3 linked regions of the Homo sapiens genome follow. The protein of the gene in region 3 interacts with the protein of the main gene of each other region in a biochemical or structural test. Each region holds a gene or a part of one and is shown on either strand. Other genes may lie near its edges.

Region 1 (7,853 bases), on a different chromosome or scaffold from region 3:
CACTAGCTAATGTGATAGTGAAACCCTGAATTCTCAGAGGCTTAGCGCAATAGAAGTTTATTTCTCATTCATGAAAAGCCCTGTTGGGTGTTTGGCAGGTGGCTTTCTATGTGGCGACCCAGGGACCGAGATCCCTTCTGTCTTGTGGTTGCGGCATCCCCTAGGACCTTGGAGTTATTTCCTTCTAGCTGATGGACCAGGAAGGAGAGAAATAATTTTATGGACCAAGCCTAAAGTGGCACGCTGTCTTTCTGTCTTAATTCTATGGACCAGAACTTGACCACATGGCCGTATCTGACTGCAAGGGAGTCTGGGAAATGGCTTTTAGCCATATTCCTAAGAGGAATCGGAAATGCTTTGTGGTGAGCACATTGCAGTTTCTGCCACACCATATCCAGGCATATAGCTTAGCACGGAGTATTTTATTTAATGCTCATGCTAGAAACAGGCACCATTATTATCCCATTTTGCAGATGAGGAAACTGAAGCTCAGAGAAGTGAAGACACTGGTGCAGGGTCACACAGCTGGTGAGGGGCTGGTGAGCCAAGATTGGAGTCCAGGTGGCCAGATGCTGAAGCTGTTAGCATCCAGATTTCTAAGAGGAATTCAGTCTTTTTTTTTTTTTTTTTTTTTTTGGAGAATTGGGTGGAAGCAGTGGACACATACACGAGGTTCAGATATGACTTCCTGGGACCCACAGAACCCAGCAGGACTCTGGGGGAGAACTTTGGGGATGGAGCCAAGGGTGAATGTCACCTGGTGCCAGGGGCTGACATCCTGTCCCCTTCCTCCAACCCTTAGGGCCGTGGTCAGGAGAAGGCACAGAATAATCCAGTTCAGTCCCTCAAGGACATCTGGGGCCCCCTCTGCTGAGCTGGGCATGCAGGGCTGGACATGCTGGTCCAGGGGTATTTTTGGCTTCCCCCCTGTTCTGGTGGGCAGGTGTGCAGCCTGTAGAGGGGATTTTTTGGAGGCTGCCTAGAGGTAGAAGAGTGGGCGTCCCTGGGGTTTGTAGTGGCAGCTCTATCTGCTGGCCGGTTTAGTTTTTTGTTTTTGTTTTTTTTTTGAGACAGAGTCTCTCTCTGTCACCCAGGCTGGAGTACAGTGGTGCGATCTCAGCTCACTGCAACCTCTGCCTCCCAGTTTCAAGTGATTCTTGTGCCTCAGCCTCCCGAGTAGCTGGGACTACAGGCACCCACCACCATGCCCAGCTAATTTCTGTATTTTTAGTAGAGACGGGGTTTCACCACGTTGGCCAGGCTGGTCTAGAATTCCTGACCTCAAGTGATCGACCTGCCTCGGCATCCCAGTGTTGGGATTACAGGCATGAGCCACTGCACCTGGCCAGTAGCTGGTTTAGTTTTGCCCAAATCTGGCTTGCTTGCCATTGCAACTTGGCAACATTTATCTTTTCAGACCTGTTTCTTGGTTTTCCATTTGCAGGGCAGTTTCCTTAGTTGGGCGTGAGCGGTCCAGCCTGGACTGATGAGCATTTATACAGCACCGTGGCATTCTGGGTCTGACCTGGATACAGAAGTAGAGCCTCAAAGCGCAAATGCCTCGGCCTTGCCCTTCAGTCACTCATTGGGAGGCTGCTGGTCTAAGTGGAATGAGCTTTGGGCTCACCACTTCCCTGAAGCATGTCGCCTTGAATAGGTGAGAGCCCAATGTCTCTGAGCCTCAGTTTTCTCATCTGGAAATAGGTTGAAGTAAGGATTTAATGAGATAATGTGAATATGCCCCCTTTGGGGCACAGCATGGAGCAGAGGGCACCCAGGGACGGAGGGCTGAGGCATAGCAGTGTAGCAGGACAAGCCGCAGGCAAAACTCTTCAGTCACCAGGTTAAAGAAGGAAGGAACTTTATTCGGCTGGGAACTTCAGGAGACTTGTGTCTTAAAAGCCGAGCTCCTCGAGTGAGCAATTCCTGTCCTTTTTTAGGGCTTACAACTCTAAGGGCAGGAGCCCAGACACGTGATGCTAATGACAATAGGAACAGTGGCCCCCATTGGCTAATAGCTCACCACCTGCCAGGTGTGGTAGGTACTATCAGTCGCATTTTTTTGTTGTTTTTGGTAGGACAGAGTCTCGCTATGTTGCCCAGGCTGGTCTCAAACTCCTGGGCTCAAGCGATTCTCCCATTTTGGCCTCCCAAAGTGCTGGGATTATAGACCTGAATCACCACACTCGGTCTAGTCTCATTTTATTTTATTTTATTTTTTTGAGACAGACTCTTGCCCTGTCACCCAGGCTGGAGTGCTGTGGCACAATCTCGGCTCACTGCAACCTCCTCCTCCTGGGTTCAAGTGATTCCCCTGCCTCAGCCTCCTGAGTAGCTAGGATTATATGCACATGCCACCACGCCCCAGCTAATTTTTTTTATATTTATTTATTTATTTATTTATATTTTTGAGACGGAGTCTTACTGTGTCGCCAGGCTGGAGTGCAGTGGCATGATCTCGCCTCACTGCAACCTCTGCCTCCCAGGTTCAAGCGATTCTCCTGACTCAGCCTCCCAGGTAGCTGGGACTACAGGTGTGCACCACCATGCCTAGCTAATTTTTGTATTTTTAATAGAGACGGGGTTTCACCATGTAGGCCAGGATGGTCTTAATCTCTTGACCTCCTGATCCGCCTGCCTCAGCATCCCAAAGTGCTGGGATTACAGGCCAATTCTTGTATTTTTAGTAGAGATGGGGTTTCACTATGTTGGCCAGGCTGGTCTCAAACTCCTGACCTCAAGTGATCTGCCCGCCTCAGCCTCCCAAAGTGCTGGAATTAGAGGCTTGAGCCACTGCACCTGGCCTGGTTTAGTCTCCTTTTAGAGATGAGAAAACTGAGGCTCAGGGAGGTAACCTGTTCAAGGTCTTACTGTCTTGAACACCATAGTTGCAAGTGACAGAGCTGAGTCTCACATGCAACCTCAGACCTGATACTGACTCCAGAGCTGTGCGCCTAAGCACTAGAGCACATAGCCTCCTTGCCCCAGGGAAAGAACAATGGGAGGTGGTGGGTGACCTCTGGGTCTCAGGGCCCTGGGATATAGGGACTGTGCCTTTTTTTTTTTTTTTTTTGAGACAAAGTTCCACTCTTGTTGCCCAGGCTGGAGTGCAATGGCGCGATCTTGGCTCACTGCAACCTCTGCCTCCTGAGTTCAATCGATTCTCCTGCCTCAGCCTCCCAAGTAGCTGGGATTACAGGTGTGCACCACCACACCCGGCTAATTTTTGTATTTTTGGTAGAGACGGGGTTTCACCATATTGGTCAGGCTGATCTTGAACTCCTGACCTCAGGTGATCCACCCGCTTTGTCCTCCCAAAATGCCGAGATTACAGGCATGAGTGCCTGCGCCTGGCTGGGACTGTACCTTCTGGATTTTCAAATGAATGAAATGAGTATTTCTTGAGTGTTGGCCACGTGACCCCCCAGCACCATGTCATGTGCTGGGTATGCACACACGATACTGTTTCATCCCCGGACGGCTCCGAGAGATGAGTACCAATATTATCACATCTTACGTAAGAGGACACTGAGTCTCAGAGAGGCAAAGTCAGTGTCCCTGGTGCACCCAGCTAGTGGGGGCTGGGGTGGGTGTGAAGGGGCCAGAAGCTTCCCAATAAGTGCCTGAAGGGCAAGGCTAGGGCATTTGTAGTTCGAGGCTCTACCACTGTGTCTAGGTCAGACCTAGGAATGCCGCAGGTGTTGCATAAATGCTCATCAGTCCAGGCTGGACCGCTCATGCCCAACTAAGTGCCAAGCCTGGCCTGGGTGATCTCACAGCCTGCATTCTTTGCCCTACACCTGTTGTGGGAAAACATACTCCCAGCATGCTGTAAATCCTCTCATTCTTAGCTAACCATGTGACTCCCGTTCTGGGCCAGAAAGATGGTCACAAATACTTAGGACTCTGGCCTTTCCCGCCGCATGGCTACTGACCCCACCCCCTGGGCTTGGAGGGCTCTAGGACCCAGCAACCTGCGCAGGGTGAAGAGTGTGTGAGGTCCTGACCTCCAGGTGTCTCCCCTGTTTCCTCCTCCCATTCCCTCTTCTCTCTCCTCCCTCCTTTTCTCTCCCTTCTCCTCCCCTCTCTTCATCCTTCCTCTTCCTTTGGCTCCCTGCCTCTGCTTCCCTCCTCTCCTGTCCTTTCCCATCCCCTCCCTCCTCAGCCCACATCCTGCTCCTCCCACCGCGGTGGTCACATGGGGGCGCCGCCGGATTTAAGCTTAATCTGCCTGGTGCTCAGCACAGCATCCTGGCTGTGGCGCGTGCTGACTGAGCTAGTCTTGGGGTCCTGGAGAAGGGGGCTGGAGGCATGCCCACAGCCTCCCCCCCATGAGCTTGGGGCTGGCGGGGGCACAGGAGGTGGAGCTGACACTAGAGACGGTTATCCAGGTGGGTCCTGGGGGCTGTGCCCACCCTGTCTGGGGCGGGGCAGCGTGGACTTAACAGGAGTGGTGAGAGGTGTGTGCGTCTTGGGGATCAAGGGGTGGGAGAGGTGTGGTGGTGGTGGGGTATACAGGGGCCCCCCGCTTGCAGTTCCTGGCAAGATGGGGGGCAGAGGTACACACAGGGTGCACCTGCTGTGGCTCCCTCATCCCAGTGCCCTGGGTTGGGAGAAGGGGGTCTCTACTGCCAGATTTTAGGGCTTGGGGGACCTCTGGCATAGCCAGATCCTCATCCATCTAGGGTCGGAACCGGATTGGGGCCCCCAACACTGGACTGCCTCCAGTGGGGTTTGGGAGTTACCCGTAGGGTTTGGTTCTCATCTCTGGCCCTGGGCCTTCTTCCTGGGGCAGTGAGCACACAAGAGGCTCTTTGCATGGGGATTTTTTGGATTCTAACTCCCAGGCTTCACTCCATCTTGAGGGGGCTCCTGGGGACCTGTATCTTGGGCAGTAGGATTCTGTGGCTCTCCCCACGAGGCCAGGGAGCCCCGGGTCCCATGTCCCCTGAAGACCCTCTCGCTTTTCCCACAGACACTGGAGAGCAGCGTCCTGTGCCAGGAGAAAGGCTTGGGCGCGCGGGACCTGGCCCAGGACGCTCAGATCACCAGCCTGCCTGCCCTTATCAGGGAGATTGTCACCCGCAACCTCTCCCAGCCTGAGAGCCCAGGTGCCACCCCCATCCGCTCCCCTCCACAAACACCACCCACATTTTACCTCTTCTCATGTCCCTTTCCTGAGCAGTCACCATGATGATCATGACTGTAACTCACTGTGGGGCAGGCACAGCTTTATGACAGAAGAACCCATTTTACAGATGAGGAAACAGAGGCTCAGGGATGTAATTTGTCCAGACTTATTCCGCATGTGGTGCAACTAGAAGGAAGGGCCGAGCATCTCCTGCGTGCTTGCCTGTAGCCTGCTGCAGAGATGTGAACCCCAAATCCCGTATTCCCACCCGGGGAAGGTGTGAGCTGGCTGAACCCAAGATACAGGAAGAGGGCAGCTCAGCTCAGACCAGGGTTTTGCGGAAGTCTGAGTGGATGGCGCCGTCCATCCGTTTCCCACGTGGGCAGGAAGGCGGATGGTCCCTGCTCCTCTCAGTGGGTGGCGCACACGGTGTAGTTATGTGGCTTGAGGATCTGGGAAAGGCACACTCAGTTGCAGCTGGTGTGCTGGCGTGTGGCGTTTTGGTGCTCTAACCATTGTCTGTGTTCAACTCCCAAGCTACAGACGGGCCCCCTCCTTGGGAGCGCCAGGGATGTTGGCGCCCTGGAGCCCCAGACAGGGAGAGACTCAGAGGGCCCTCACCCTGACACCTGGGGTGTATGTCCAGTTCTCCCAGGGTAGAAGGGGAACCCACAGGAGGTGGACAACCCCGCTTCTCCCGCTGGCCTTTCTTTCCCTCTTCTCTCTTTCTCCTTCTCCTCACAACCTGACCTATGCTATGCTCTCCTGAGCCCTAGCCTTTAAAGTTCCATGAAGCCCTTCTCTTGAGCGAGGCTTTGATGCTTTTCTGGGAGGATCTGGTTACTACTATTCTACCTTTTTTTTTTTTTTTTTTTTTTTTGAGACAGAGTCTCGCTGTGTTGCCCAGGCTGGAGTGCAGTGGCGCAATCTCAGCTCACTGCAACCTCCACCTCCCCGGTTCAAGTGATTCTGCTGTCTCAGCCTCCCAAGTAGCTGGGACTACAGGCATACACCACCATGCCCAGCTAATTTTTGTATTTTTAGTAGAGACAGGGCTTCGCCGTGTTGGCCAGGCTAGTCTCAAACTCCTGACCTCAGGTGATCCTCCTATCTCGACTCCCAAAGTGCTGGGATTACAGGCGTGAGTCCGTGCCCGCCCCACCCATATTACAGATAAGTAAATCTGAGGCCCCGGAGAAGAAGACTAATTGGAAAAGGAGGGAGCAAGAACTCAGGGGTCTCCTGGCTCCTAGACTGAGTGTCTCTCCTGCACCTCCCAAACCTGCTGGGCCACACTTTAGCTGGAGTTGTGTTCACTTTACGTCCAGCTTTGTATCCCCTCCTTGCCTTCCTCCCTGTTCTCAGCTCTGTTTGCAGGCCTGGTGCTGCAGCCATTCCCATCTGGACTCCTCCCAGGGGCCTGGATGGTTTTCTTGCCCTCCCTGTTGGGGGGAGGATGTCCCACTGGACCCAGAAGCCAACCATGTGCCCACTGTCCCTTGCCAGTCCTGCTGCCGGCCACAGAGATGGCATCGCTGCTGTCGCTGCAGGAGGAGAACCAGCTGCTGCAGCAGGAGCTGTCCCGCGTGGAGGACCTGCTGGCCCAGAGCCGTGCCGAGCGCGATGAGCTCGCCATTAAGTACAATGCGGTCAGCGAGAGGGTGGGTGCCGCCCAGGTGGTGGACTAGGCCAGGGTTCCCCTCGTTCAAGGGCAGGGAGGCATCTAGACCAGGCCCACACACGGGGCAAAAGATGGGCCCTGGAGTCAGGTTGGCCTGGGCTTGGATTGAGGCTCTGCCACCTTGAGTGGCGTTGAGCAAATCACTATGCTCTTTAAGCCTGTTTTCTGTAGTGGGGATTGTAATGGGACGTGGAATTGTAGGAATCAAGGAGATAATAGAATAAAGTGCCTGGCACCAGGGGTATTTTGTTCCCATCTGTCCCAGGCCTGTTAGGGGTGTGGGACACGGAGAATGAGATCCCTAAAGATTCCTGCCCCTTGAGTTTCTGGGCATCTCCCATTGCCACGGGCCTTGGGGTTGAGGCGGTGGCTGGATGCTGGCTCGAGGCTGGTGTGGGCACCCGCGGTGTTCTGCAGCCCATCTGGGGCAGCCACAAGACCTGCCGCCACTGCCTATTGGAATGAGTTCCAGGCAGGGAAGGAAGGAGAAGCAGGCCTGTCTTCATGTCCAGGCAGGATTCACATCACCCGTGCTGCAGGCTTGTGGGGGTCCCAGGGTGTGGGGCGGGAGCTGGGTGTGAGCCGGTGCGAGGGGTGCGGGATGCTCTTGATGCACTGTCTGCTTTGGGCCTCCGGGTGGCCGGGAGGTGGCCCTGGGAAGTTGGTGGTGGCTGAAGATTGGTAAGGGACACTCGCAGCTGGGACAGAGTGTATGTGTGCAGATGAGAGGCATGCAGGTGGCAATAACGTATTAACAGTAGCTACTGTTTATTGAGTGCCTACTATGTGCCAGGCGCGTGCTGAGTGTTTCACATTTAATACACCAAGGTCGGGACCATTATGATGCCCATGTAACAGAGGAGAAAACAGAGGCTCAGGGAGGGGAAGCACCATGCTGGGGGCACACAGCCAGTTAAAGTTAGACACCAGGTCTTCCAACTCCCAGCCCAGGGCTCTGTTTGGTTTCTAAACTAACCCAGTCTAGAAACAAAGTTCTGAAGTTTCATTTCCTGTGTATGGGAAGAGACACTGGGCTAGGGA
Region 2 (7,879 bases), on a different chromosome or scaffold from region 3:
GTGAGTATGTTGACAAACTAAGGACTAGCCAATCGTATAGGTAAGAGGCTCTGAAGTTGGCTGAATACCCAAACAGTGTGATTGAAATAACTGCCAACAATCTTATTCATTTTAGAAGATTAACCTAGGGACCATGACCCATTAAGCACTTTATAAATGGTTTAGAATCATATTTTTCAAACTTCAAAACCTTTGACACTTTAATAGACTTATCAAATGTGCTGACAGCCAACTTACTAGATCCCCAGTATAAAACTCAAAATATGATTAAGAGCTAAAATGAACAAAATGGAATCTGCACTTTAAAGGTTTGCTCTCCAAAGTGCAAGTATGGAATGGGGCTTAAAGCTGGCGGCAAGAGATACAAAAAAGACCTGTATATTCAAATTGCCCATGAATTCATGAATCGGTAACTTTCTATTGGTTAGAAAGCTAATGTAATCTTAAACTGTACTGATGAGACAGAAGTATGTCTCAATCAAAGAATGTAGTAAAATTGTGTTCTATGATCGATCCCTCTGGAAAACCACATGATGCTTACAACATGATGACCCTGTTCCTCTTTGTTGCAGTCATTTACACAATTACAAGTGTTAATTCCCCTTCATTTTATGAAGATGTCAGTACCCAGTTCACTCTCTCTCACCAATACCATTACTGTTGTAATAAAACAGTACTGGTGGTTTCAAAGTCTGTAGCAGATAATCCCACTAAAATAACCTGGCCTCTCAGCTCCTTGACCAAATTTTCTGCGATCTTATTCTTTCTTCATTTTTATTTTAAAAACAGAGATGGGGTCTCGCTGTTGCCCAGGCTGGTCTCAAACTCCTGGCCTCAAGCAATCCTCCCACCTCAGCCTCCCAAAGTGCTGGAATTACAGGTGTGACCCACCATGTCTGGCCTTATCCTTTCTTTACTACCTCGGAAGTCAACTCCATGACAACACCTTTACCTTTTCATTACTAACTGCATTGCTTCCATAATCTCAATTTCAAGTAGAGATACTAATCAACTTACGATGGGGTTACTTCCTGATAAATGTTCTGTAAGTTGAAAATACCCTAAGCTGAAAATGCATCAAACACATCTAACCTACCAAACACCATGGCTTAGCCTAGCCTACTTTAAATGTGCTCAGAACACGTACACTGATCTACAGTTCAGCAAAACCATCTAACACAAAGCCTATTTTATAATAAAGTGTTAAATATTTCATATGATTTATTGAATACTATACTGAAAGTGAAAAACAGAATGGTTGTACAGGTACTAGAAATATTTCTATTGAATATTTCTATTGAATGTGTATTGCTTTTGCACCATCGTAAAGTCGAACAATTTTAAGTTGTTCTAAGTCAGGGACTGTCTGTATTCACCTTCTATTACTCCGTCCAGTACCCTGATTCCAACAAATCTTTGACCCCACTGAGATCTACAACCCACTAATGTTACCACCTTTTTTCACTGCCCTTCAGCCTCCCTCATATCCTTCTTCCTGTAACTTAACCACCTTAGATCCCATGGTCCACCATTATAATCACTCCTTTGACTATATCCTCAATTCTCTTGTCCCCCACTTCCCTCTTTTGTACTCACCTAGCAAAACTCCAAATGGGCAAAAATTCAACTCTTTCAGCAGCTAACCTTGAGTGGGCCCTTAATACTGCCTGGCAATACTCTCACACTGCCTGAATCCATCCATTTCATGCCTTTTCCTAGAACCTCTTCCCCCTTCCTCATCTCCATGATGACTTTGCTCCCTGTATTAGACAATATGAAATTGATATAATGAGTACATACACATTTTCCCTCCCTCACCTCATCTATAAACCTTCTATAACTCCACTTTATCTCCTGTTACTAGGATGAGCATCTGTGCTCCTATGCTATCCTAATCCACCTATTTTTATACTGAATCCCAATTCTTTTAATGTGGTGAATGCCACAACACAGATTTTGCCTCAATCTAAGAAGCACTTTGTAACAACTACAGCTGTCAAAAAATGAAATAAATCATATCACAAAGTAACAGCCATTCCTTTGATTAAACAGATTTCTACAGTAACTGGAAGTAACTCCAGATAAACAATGAGCACTCTCTCAGCTTTAAAATTCAATGGTTTTAGAATATATAAAGTTATAAATATTCTTGTATAAGTTATAGTATTAACTGGAATGTACATACTTTTCTCACCCTTGGCAACCCTTGTTAAATTCCTCAAGGGATAGGTAAGTCTTTGGGGAAGGAATAACAATGGAATGGAAGAATGATAGACTGCCATTTTCCACTACTTTTTAGAAATGTGTCTAGCCCTTTTGTTTTCATTCTCATACTGTTCTCTTTCTAGAACTGCCACCTTGGAAACTCTCCTGGGAATATCTAACAGAAATGCATCTCTTAAGAATAAGTGTGTAACATAGTTCTCATAATAACCTTAATTAGGTACTGTATATAATTAGATCATGGAATTTGAGCAATAGAATATTTACTAATTGTGTTTGACCTTTTTATTATTTAAACAACTTTCTTCTGCAATTAACTTAGAAGAAAGGGGCATTAAAATGAAAAAAGGAAGCTGAGTAAGTAGAAAAGATCACAAACTTATTTACTTATTGCTGAGACAACTCAGCAGGTTGAATATATTTACCTTTAACAATCTTCTTTGCACAGTCATTATACACTTGCTCTTGAGATGTGCTTGACTGGAACACCCGATCAAATGCATAAGGCTTGGACTGAAAAACAAAAAAGTGTTTCAACTATACAAATTAAAGGTAAATGAACATTTCTAACCTTTACAGATGCCATCATATAATATATTTAATCCTCAAAATAGTATACCTAGTATGCATAATTTGGTATCATTGAATCTTTGAAGTAGAAGGGATCACCATGCACAAATCCATTAGAATAAACTCCAGGAAAACAAGAATGGTCTTTAGTCTTTGCTGCATTCCCAGGGCCCAGTAATTACAATTATAATTCCCAGTAATTATAATTAGCACTACTATGGCAGCCAAATATTGCTGAGTGATTTTTATTTTTTTAAATACCTATTTATTTATTTTTGAGACAGGGTCTCGGTTCTGTCACCCAGGCTGGAGTGCAGTGGCACAATCACTGCTTACTGCAGCCTCAACCTCCTGGGCTCAAGAAATCCTCCCACCTTAGCCTCCTGAGCAGCTGGGACTAGAGGCATGTGCCACCATGCTATGTTGCCCAGGCTTGTCTTGAACTTCTGGGCTCAAGAGATCCTCCTGCCTCAGCCTCCCCAAGTGCTCGGATTACAGGTGTGAACCACCATGCCTGTCCTGCAACAGCTTTTCAACCATTCTTTCATTTAACAAATACTTATGGAATGTGAGATGACATGCTAGAATGATAACCAAGAGATTCCCTCTCTGCTTTAGTGGAGCATAAATAATAGTGGGGCAGACATTAAAAAATTAAGTGACCAGAATTCTGACTCATGCAATTGAGTGCTATGAAAGTGCAATGAGAGAATATAGGAGGAGAACCTAAGTCTACGGGAAAGCAGAATATCACGGAAACACCCTTGGAGAAAGAATATTTAAGAACTGAAAAATACGCAGCAACTAACTCATCATCACTCTCCCCAGTATTAGTCATGAAGGGTGAAAAAGGTTTCGTGTAGGAAAGTAGTCTAGGCACTGGGAGGATACTTAAAGATCCTAAGGCAGAAAGAACAGTGTAGCATTCAAGAAACCAATGGAAGTTGTTAAGTTGAAGTACAAGGAGCAAGGATCAAATGCAAATATCAAAACGGTTAAAAAGACATCATCTTATTCTGAAAACAGCTTTGATCTTCTGGACCCCAGAAATGATACTGGGGACTCCATGGACCACTCTCAGAGAACCACTAATATAGTCTGAGAAGGAGCCAGGGGTATTGAACAAAAAAAAAAAATCAGTGGTGTCCATGCAAGTCAAAAAATAATAATTTTCAAGGAGGGAGTGATTATGTCAAATACAGTTGTGAGGCCAAGACAAAACTAAAAAGTACTCAATGACAAAGGTCAGATTGGAATGGATTGAAAAAGAATGGGAGGTAACCAAGTGGTGCAGAAAATCTGCTGTATGTCTAAGAAAGTTATTTTTTTTTTAAGACTTGTAAGACCTGAGGTAGTTTAAATGCTTGCAGGAACAATTTTAATAATCTAGGAGAAAGAGTAGGTATCCAAAAATAAGAGGCAAGGGGTTCTAGGTATTTGCAAGTATCTGCCTGCTCTCTAGTTTCTCCTAAAGGAAAGGAAGGAAGTTGGGCCCTAAAACACAAAACAATCATGACCCCAGAAAAAGCCCTTAACATTAGAAAACACTTCCTAAGTCTTAGCTGAAAAAGACCTACTACCCTCCACATCCCCACTTCAAAGTCTGAAATAAAAGTAACAATGAACCAGACACTCCTAAAGCCATTCCCAATTCCCCTTTCCCTTGCTACCTCCCAATAAATAGGCCGGAAAGCCAAATACCTGTTAGCCTAGTCTCCCTGCAACTAGTAGTCACATGACCAAGCTCTGAATAATATGAAGTGGCGGTCTGTTCGAGGTCTCTGAGAAGGGTGTTGTTATCCTGATAAAAAGGACCATCTCAGCTAAAACTGCCCTTTCTCCTTCCTGGAATGAATGCCTGGAGCTGTAGCATCCATCTTGCAAATACGACAAACAGGATGATGAAAAGCAACAGCTAAGGACGACAAAGTATAACAGAGTGAGGAACCGTGAAGGGCCTATATCCAGGCTTTTTGTTATGTGAGAAAAACATCCTCTTATTTATTTAAGCCACTATTAGCTGTTGGTTTTTCCTCTAAAGCTGAAAGCATTACTGACAGATACAAGAAGCTGATCTCACTTTGGCATCAATTTAAAATAGGCATCGATGTCTGATTATTCTTTAGTTGTGACATATGTGAACGTATCCTTTTCTCAGATGCTACTGAAACAATTAACATTCAATTCTACAGGTGTGACTAAAAGAAATCTATTATTTTACTGCTGACACAAGATATATTCATGGTGAACAATTCTGAAAACAAACGTTAAGTACAATCAAAATAACAATCGCCACCCAAAAACAAACCATACTAATAGTTTTTTCTATGCAAAAAGAAAGTAATTTTCCCTCATTTATCCAGCAGACATTCATTTAGTGACTATAAAGATATGAGATATTGTAGATGAGTAACACAATTTTAGAAATAATTAGTACAGACTGTAGGGTTCAAAGAGTAATAGAGGATAAGGCCAGATAAAAACCTGAATACTAAGTTAAGTTATACACTTGGATCTAATATAAGTGATCAAGTAATGTCAAGAGAATTTTATATGTATCTACAAATATACTCCTGAGTAGCTGGGACCACAGGCATGTGCCACCACGCCTGGCTAATTTTTGTATTTTTAGTAGAGATGAGGTTTTGCCATGTTGGCCAGGCTGGTCTCAAACTCCTGACCTCCAGTGATCCACCTGCCTCAGCCTCCCAAAGTGCTGGGATTACAGGCGTGATCCACCATGCCTGGCCTCAATTTTTACATCAATAGAAAATAGTGCCCCTAAACCATTTACCAAGAGATATGCCAGAAATAATGTAAACAGCTTCATAATAGTAAACAGTTTTAATAGTAAAGCCTGCCTTCAGAAGTACTTTATGAAGCTGCTTACTCTAGTTATCAACTCCAAGCAAATATATAAACTACCACTACAACCTTACTAAAATAATATAAATGGCAACTATTAAAAGGTAACACACAAACATAAAAATAATTGAGACTGGAGTGATTATCTTTCTAGAAGTTATTGTTAAATAAAAATTAAGTGCTTAGCATTAAGTTGACAAAACAGTCTTATCTTGATTGCAAAACCAAATGATGATTTTGTAATACTAAGTAAGGCAAATGTTTTAATTAAAGATCTAGCCATAAATTACTGACTCTGGCTTCCTGGAATGAAAATCAAGACTCTGTGAAACACAAAAATTATTTCTAATGGTCTATAATTAAGGCATATCTCTATTTTTCAAATAAATTAAAGAAAAACTCATCTGGACATCTGTATTTTTCAAACCTGGTTTTTAGCCTCGAAATGTACATTATGCAGCTTTTAATCCCATGTGTCTTCAAAGATCCCCCAAGTTTCAGATTTCAATATTACTAGTAACTCCAAGTCACAAGATGCATTCACGTCTGATTGATGCTTTAAGGGGACAAATCAAAAAGGAATAAGTTGATCTCAACTGCATACCTTAGGTTCCTTAAGGGAAGTGATTCCTGTTTGAGTATGCACCGACCAGACTGAAGACCAAATTTGGTTATGAAGGACACCCTTCTGGCAGGGATATGTCTTTCTCTGGAATTCTGAATAGCGGATCATTTCAGATCACTTGGGAGTGTATTATATTAGATTTTCCTTAGTTAAACACTATAGTGGGCTAACATTCCACAACTGTAAAGGTATGTGATGATGGTTCCCTCCTCTCCTTCATTTTTCCCTCTTAAGGTAATCAAGAAGGTTCAAACACCAAATCATTCACTTGAAAAGCGAGAATGTTGTTTTGCTTAGGCAAGGAACTGGGCAAGATTATCTAATTAGTTTTATTCTCTTCTAATTTCTCGGAACTACCACAGCTTGTTTTTGGCAGCCTTTACGGTGTACCATATAAGGAATAATGATTTGTAAAGATACTTAATGATGCAAATAACCATATTCTACTTTCATGATTCATAAATAGATAGATGTAATTTTTTTATTGATTTTTCTTCCTGGTGTTTTTAGCAAGCTCCTAATTTTTTCTACTGATTTTTTTCTGGTGTTTCCAGCAAGCTCATTTCAAAGACATAAACTGTTTCCCTGTCCTCCTTGCTTTGCGGTAACAAGTTCTCTAATTTAAAGCAAATAGTTTATATGTATATCGCTTAAAGACTTTCATAAAATAATTCATTTCATTCGATGTTACATTTATAGCACTTCACCAAGCACTTAATTAAAAATAAATTCTGTATTAAAGGCTGTACAGCATACACAGAAACACTATGAAAGATTTGCCTGCCATGGTGTCATATTAAAATCACTGATTACATGAGTAGCAGGAAAAAAGTTTAGACAAAGTATTAAAAACTCAAGTTATAAGAAAATCAGAATCCTTAAAAATTACTTTCTCCATGAGCACTGATTATGCTTCTAACATCATAAACTACAATATTCTTTCAATTTTGATCTAAATAGAAGATTGTATACAAAATGTTCTTAAATCATGTTTTTAAAAATTTAGTTTTAAATGCTGCATTGCAGCAATTCTCTCCTAAACTGTTCATTATGAATCAGGATTAGGAACCAGTAAAATGAAAAAACCAAACCGAGAAGATTTTACCCACAGATTTTCCAATTCCGCTCCTCCTGGCTGCTCTTATAACCTTTTACAAAATGAAATAATTCATTTAAAAAACTGAACAAAAATATGAGACCTCAATAATTAATGTCGTTACTATATGCAAGAAACTAGTTTCTGAAAACAATGAACCAAAACATGTTGCCTTTCATTTTTTAAGGCTATGTTATTCAGTTGTAATGTATTTTTGGTTACACGTTAAAAAAAAAAAAAAAAAACCAGGCCAGGCGTGGTGGCTCATGCCTGTGATCCCAGCACTTTGGGAGGCCAAGACAGGTGGATCACCTTAGGTCAGGAGTTCGAGACCGCCCTAGCCAACATGGTGAAACCCATCTCTACTAAAAATACAAAAATTAGCTGGGCGTGGTAGCGCGTGCCTGTAATCCCAGCTACTGGGGCGGCTGAGGCAGGAGAATCGTTTGAACCCGGGAGGCGGAGGTTGCAGTGTGCCAAGATCACCCCACTGCACTCCA
Region 3 (5,948 bases):
CTACCTTGGTTTCTTCATCTCTAAGATGAGTATCATGATAGTACCTATCTCACAGGGATTTGGTGAAGATTAAATTACTTAAGGTATGGAAAGCACCTAGAAGTACTTGGCACATAGAAAGCACTTAGTAAATAGCAGTTCTTAATATGAATTATCTATATGTTGGAGGTAAGGGTGACATGAAGGGAAGAAAATCAGGTTAGGACGACGGTGTGCAATGAAGGGAACCCCTGTAAACAGAATTCGTGGGTTATGAACAGCTCTAAATACACTGTTCTACACTAATTTTTCTGAATTATCTGTAACACTTCACTAAGCCTGAAATTACTACACAGTCTAGTATAAGGTAGGGGTGTTATGAAGAATAAAGGATGAAGACAGTAAAGGAAAGTGGGGCCTACCCTGCAGAAACTCTCCCCTTGCCCCAACAGTCTCCTTTCCATGGGGATGGCATCAGAGTTCCAGGAGAGAAGAGAGCAGGGCACATGTTGGGGCCAGGAGCATGCAGAGGCACCCATGAGAGGCACTCACGTACCTAGAAGAAGGCTGTCGTGGTCCCAGATTTGCTGGGGAGCACTGTTGGAAAAGGAAGGGATGGAGAGGGGAGCCCGGGTTACTTGGGAAACATTTTCTTCATACTTCTTCTCTATATCTACCTGCCTAGCCATGTGAGCTCACCAAGCACTTAAGAACAAACCCCAGTCCAGGATGAGTGTTCTGGTCTCCTCCTTCCAATAAAAAGTGATTATTGGCAGCTCTCACTTTAATGCCAGCTCACCAGGAAGTCAGCCCTAGTGAGGGCATGTGAGGACTATAGAAGGATTGGTGGTGTGGATTTCTTTTAAGATATTGCCCTTCACTCTCCTTCTCCACCATTCCCCCGATCCCCATTAGATAAGGGGTTTGTTAGTCAAACCATCAGGTAGAACATTTCAAAGGTCACAAGACAAAAGCAATTACCAGTACATTTTTGTTTCCAATTGCAGATTTATTTCCACACACACAAAAAAATCTATGTTGAAGTTACAGGATTGCCATGAATGCCACACACCTTTCAGACTAAGCAGAAAGCCCACAAGAAAAGCACAAAATGAATGCACTCAGCTGCCCCTGTCCCCCCCACCCTGGTGACTGGGGAAGGACAGGCAGAGCCATCTAACAGGGGAGCTGAGTCTTTGGGAGGATAGGAAAGCCCAGGGTCAAGGGAAAACAACACAGACACTACACAGGGGCTTTCAGTGAGACAGGGATAGATCACGCCGGTGGAAGGAAGGCCCTAGCGTCCCTGTTCTTGCCCAAGAATAGCACACCATTTGTGAGTTTGCCCACTGTGTTCCCAACATCAATGCACAGATACAATTCTACCAGCAAGATCACAGAAACATAGTAAGAGCAAAAGGCAAAGCAGTCTGGGATTATGGGTTGATTTTCAGCCCAAGACACAAAGCCAGCTCAGACTTCTGAATTTTTCCATCCTTGTTCACGTCGCAGTGACGCAGGAGAATCTCGCGGAACTTATCAAGGTCCACCCCGCTGATGCTGGGCTGAGGGCGACAAAAGTAACATGTTAACAGGCAAGCCAATGGTGTTCTCACCCTTTAACACCCTCTCTGATGCTCCCTAAGCTTAGGGTGTCCTGCCTTGAAGGAGACAGGCCACAGGGAGTGAGGGAATGAGTCTATCGCCTCATCCCACCAAATGCTGCCAAGGATAAGTTTTCTGCCAACAGCTTCATTTCTCAGCATGTCCCTTCAGGCCAAAAAACCTTTACTTCCACATCACTTCCCTGCAGTTCTTAGAAAAAGACTGCCTTATTAGCAACCATAGTAAAGATACTTTGCCGCAAAGTAGGCAATTATGATCATAAATTTCTGCCTTGCTGCACTGATGAGAGAAGACACATTTCATTATCTCCTTGTAGGAGATTTTTGTGCCTCTGGTTTAAAAAAAAATGGTTATACTGAATGTAAATTTAAAACATGTGGTTGAGCTAGGGATGTAATATTTACTCCAAGGGATATGTTAGGGGGCAAGAAAGAATGTTAGCTAGAAACGTGACACATGTTAGCTAGGAAAAGTTTTTTACTTCAAGCTCAAAGGCCTGCAAAAGTGAGGAATGCTTTAACAAATTGATTCTCCATAGGTTATTTCATGTAAGCTTCACAATAATGCTGGGAAGTAAATAATTCCACCTCTTTTACAAATTAGGAAACAGAGGTGCAGAGAAAGCTTAAGCTTCCTGCCAAGCTGGAAAGTTGTGGCAGCATTTTTGAGCCCAAGAATAGTCCAACAGTCCTCTGACAATTGGAGACAGTCCTCAATAGTCCTCTGATTCCAATTGAGTGCTCATTGCAAAATTTCATACCATTCTCATGGAGAAAAGGCTGGTCTAATGAAACTACATGTGTGCTGATGCATCTGTGAATAAACGTCAAAATCAAAGAGCCCATCCTTCAAAATGGATCTCACGTGGTTTACTGGCCCAAAATTTTTTTTTTTTTTTTTTTTTGAGACGAAGTCGCAGCCGTCCCTGCTGGAGTGCAGTGGCAGTGATCTCGGCTCACTGCAACTACCGTCTCCCGGGTTCAAGCGATTCTCCCATCTCAGCTTCCCGAGTGGCTGGGCTTACAGTCACCCGCCATCATGCCCGGCTAATTTTTGTATTTTAGTAGAGATAGGGTTTCATCCTGTTGGCCAGGCTGGTCTTAAACTCCTGACCCCTGGTGATCCGCCCACCTTGGCCTCCCAAAGTGCTAGGATTACAGGAGTGAGCCACCGTGCCCGGCCACTGGCCCTAAATTTAAAATAGATCCAAGTGGCCCTTTTTTGACTAGAGATGACAGCTTACTCAAGTACCCTGAAAACCAGCACCTTTTTCTTTTTAGGGCTTTCAGAGCTCACCCGAACCAACCAATCAGAACTCAGTTAAATTAACCAATCAGGACTCAGCTCTATTGACCAATCAGAACTTGGCTCCAATAACCAATCAGAACTAAGCAAGTTTGAATCCTTTATTTGCACAAACAGAACTAACTGGCAACATGGGTGGGCACTGACTTTGTAAAATCCAAACCCCCTTTTGTTCTCTGCACCCTGGTTTACACTGAAAAGTGTGTCCTCCATTTTCCCATTTTCTTTTCTTTTTTTTTTTTTTTTTTTTTGAGACAGAGTTTCAGTCTTGTCACCAAGCTGGAGTGCAGTGGTGCCATCTCAGCTCATTGCAACCTCCGCCTCCCAGGTTCAAGCAACTCTCCAGCCTCACCCTCCCAAGTAGCTGGGATTACAGGTGCCCACCACCACACCCGGCTAATTTTGTATTTTTTCAGTAGAGACAGGGTTTCACCATGTTGGCCAGGCTGATCTCAAACTCCTGACCTGAGATGACACACCTGCCTCGGCCTCCCAAAGTGCTGGGATTAGAGTCCTGAGCCATTGTGCCCAGTCCCGTTTTCAAACTATTAACGGGAATAAAGCCTTTCCACCAAATTCCTTTTCAGAAAACTTCTGTTCACAAATCTAAATTTAAAAGTCAATGTACAGAGAGAAAAACAAAAAACAAATTTAGTCAAATTTCCAAGCCCCTTGATTACTGGAGTAGTTTTATGAGTGAATAGAGAAGGCAGCGACCCGCAGGTTTGATTTCAGGGGCTCTGGGAAGCACTCTCCATTACCCAACCCTGCCCCAAGGTTTTCTTGCTTCCAAAAACAAAATCACTAAAAACATCATCAGTAGGGGAAGAAAAAAAAATTGTTCCTTAACTAGCCAAGCCACGTTAAGACTCGTTAATTTGCACTGTCCAATGGGGTAAATGACTGACACCAAATCTATTATTGATAGCAGGTTTAAAATAGGAGGAAGGAGGAAAGAGCAACAGAAATTGGGAGCCAGATGGCAGAGCAGGAAAAATAAACACCAGAGTAGGCCTGGTATTCAGAGAGATATCAGGAGCTGAAAGTCTGGGACCAGAAGATAAACTTGATCAACTTCACTCTTCTGTGGAGAGTGGCCTGAATGATTAGACTCTGAGGCCACAATGTAACTCGACCTTGTCAATAGGTTCTCTTGTAGTTCTCTGCCAGTACCAGGCAAGTATAGATGTGGCCCAAGGAAATGTGGCTCAGAGGTCCTGAAAACAGCAGGCTGCATTCTGAGACCCCCTGGTGGGAGTTCATTTGTTGTACAGTGCAATGTGGGGATGTTTGCTTTTCAGCATCTTCAGTGACTTGTTGGTAAAACTTTTCTCCACTAAACGGCCCCAGGATCCTTTTGGCAAATCCCATTATTAGAAAATACTCAAGTGGTAGTCATTTACACATTAGTGTGAATTAATTTGCCAATGTATTTACCTCATTCAAACTATTCTAAGTTTGTTTTTGTTTTGTTTTGTTTTGTTTTCTAATTGAAGAATAATGGACTTTGTTTCCCACCATAGTAATTATTTCCTTCAAGTGAGTAGAAAATATTTTTGGTGTATGAATGCATGTGTATTAGGGGATGTGGGAATGAATGTGGATGTATGTAAAGGAAGTTCCTTTGGACCTTTTGAGTTATGTTTTTAATATTGGGCAACTCAATATGAGTCAGGAGACCTAAATGCCACAGCTCAAAAATGCACGTGTCACTGAAGACAAATCACCAGAAACCTTTAGAGCCTCAGTCTTAACAACAGTTTTTATAACAAGTGACTAATATAAGTGCAGATAGGTTCCTGAGGTAAGAGCTCTAAATATATTAACTCTAATCTTCAGAACAACCCTAGGAGGTTGTATCTACTTTCATCATTAATTTATAGATGAGTAAACTAAAGCACAGAGAGGTTAATTAACTTGCCCACTGTCACACAGCTGACACATGTCAGAACCAAGATACAAATCCAGGCAGTCAGGTCCCAAAGTGTATATTTTTTATCACTACACTGTATCATAATCTTTCATGTAAAAATGTAACTTTTTCCTCTTTCATCTCATAGGACAGTGTGAGAGTGGATCTGAAATAAAATTGATTGAAAAATGCTGACCTGTCTCCCTTTAATCTTGGCAATAGGGGGACCTTTGGGGCTGGCCTTCTCTTCCCAATTCTTGCCCATAGTAGGTGCTCAATTATATCTATGAAATTAGTGAATGACTATCCTCAAATGCAGCCTTCCTGTTTTTGTCATACACCTACCCTTTCCTGTACATTCCAATTCTCTTAAAATAATTAAAGTTCATATCCAAGCCTTCTGTTAACCAGCACTTCACAAATCTCTATCCTAGAGTCATCATGACTCCAACACTGGACCATATTCTGACCACTAGAGGAACTGAATTAGAGTTTCACTGATGGTAAGTGCATTTTATTGTAACCCACTTAAAATAATTCTCTACCAATCAAAATATTTAATTAACCAGAACCTTATTCTGTAACCATGCAAAATTACAACATGTTTTCTGTCTCCAGTTTGCTATTTATTGGCCACACTGGTGTTTGAAAACATTGAGGCGACAGGCAGAAGTTAAGACATTATTGCTTAAGATATCTGTCCAGGTCTCTACCAACAAGCCTCTGCTTGTTTACAAATTATCACCTGCCATTGCTTTTTAAAATGAAAATAAGAAATTACATTGGTGTTCCTTTAGGATCACTTTACTAGGCAAATGGAAACGTCTGCTCAGATACTGGGAAGTCTCCTAGAGAGTGGTGTACCCAGCAGTGCTTTAATTTGAGAAGCTCCAGGAAGAACCTCTTCAGTCTTTCAACTTTCTTCCCATCGCTAGTTTCCACCACATTCTTTTATATCTAACAAAAAACATTCTTTTGTTAGATATTCACTCTTTGGGATTACATTTTCTTCTCCTTGCCACCTATCCTCTCTTTTCAAAGTTTTTCATCACCCAAGAGATGGCAGCACGTTAAGTCCCTAACATAATAATGCGAAAACATATAGTATATATACCAGAATGCTATC

What was found.
Region 1: the proteins of SCGN (region 3) and CROCC form a complex in vitro, tested with the Homo sapiens proteins (one study listed by BioGRID).
Region 2: the proteins of SCGN (region 3) and KIF5B form a complex in vitro, tested with the Homo sapiens proteins (one study listed by BioGRID).

Annotation. Positions count from the first base shown.
Region 1 is NC_000001.11:16,917,688-16,925,540, forward strand, and holds the start of CROCC (rootletin), read left to right. Parts: upstream 1-4,243; 5' UTR 4,244-4,331; coding exon 4,332-4,391; intron 4,392-4,975; coding exon 4,976-5,111; intron 5,112-6,637; coding exon 6,638-6,792; intron 6,793-7,853. UniProt on the Homo sapiens protein: Major structural component of the ciliary rootlet, a cytoskeletal-like structure in ciliated cells which originates from the basal body at the proximal end of a cilium and extends proximally toward the cell nucleus.
Region 2 is NC_000010.11:32,045,816-32,053,694, forward strand, and holds part of KIF5B (kinesin-1 heavy chain), read right to left. Parts: intron 4,709-7,879; exon of another isoform or gene 4,495-4,708; intron 2,737-4,494; coding exon 2,649-2,736; intron 1-2,648. UniProt on the Homo sapiens protein: Microtubule-dependent motor required for normal distribution of mitochondria and lysosomes. Can induce formation of neurite-like membrane protrusions in non-neuronal cells in a ZFYVE27-dependent manner.
Region 3 is NC_000006.12:25,696,803-25,702,750, reverse strand, and holds the end of SCGN (secretagogin), read right to left. Parts: intron 5,326-5,948; exon of another isoform or gene 3,777-5,325; intron 1,545-3,776; coding exon 1,416-1,544; 3' UTR 968-1,415; downstream 1-967.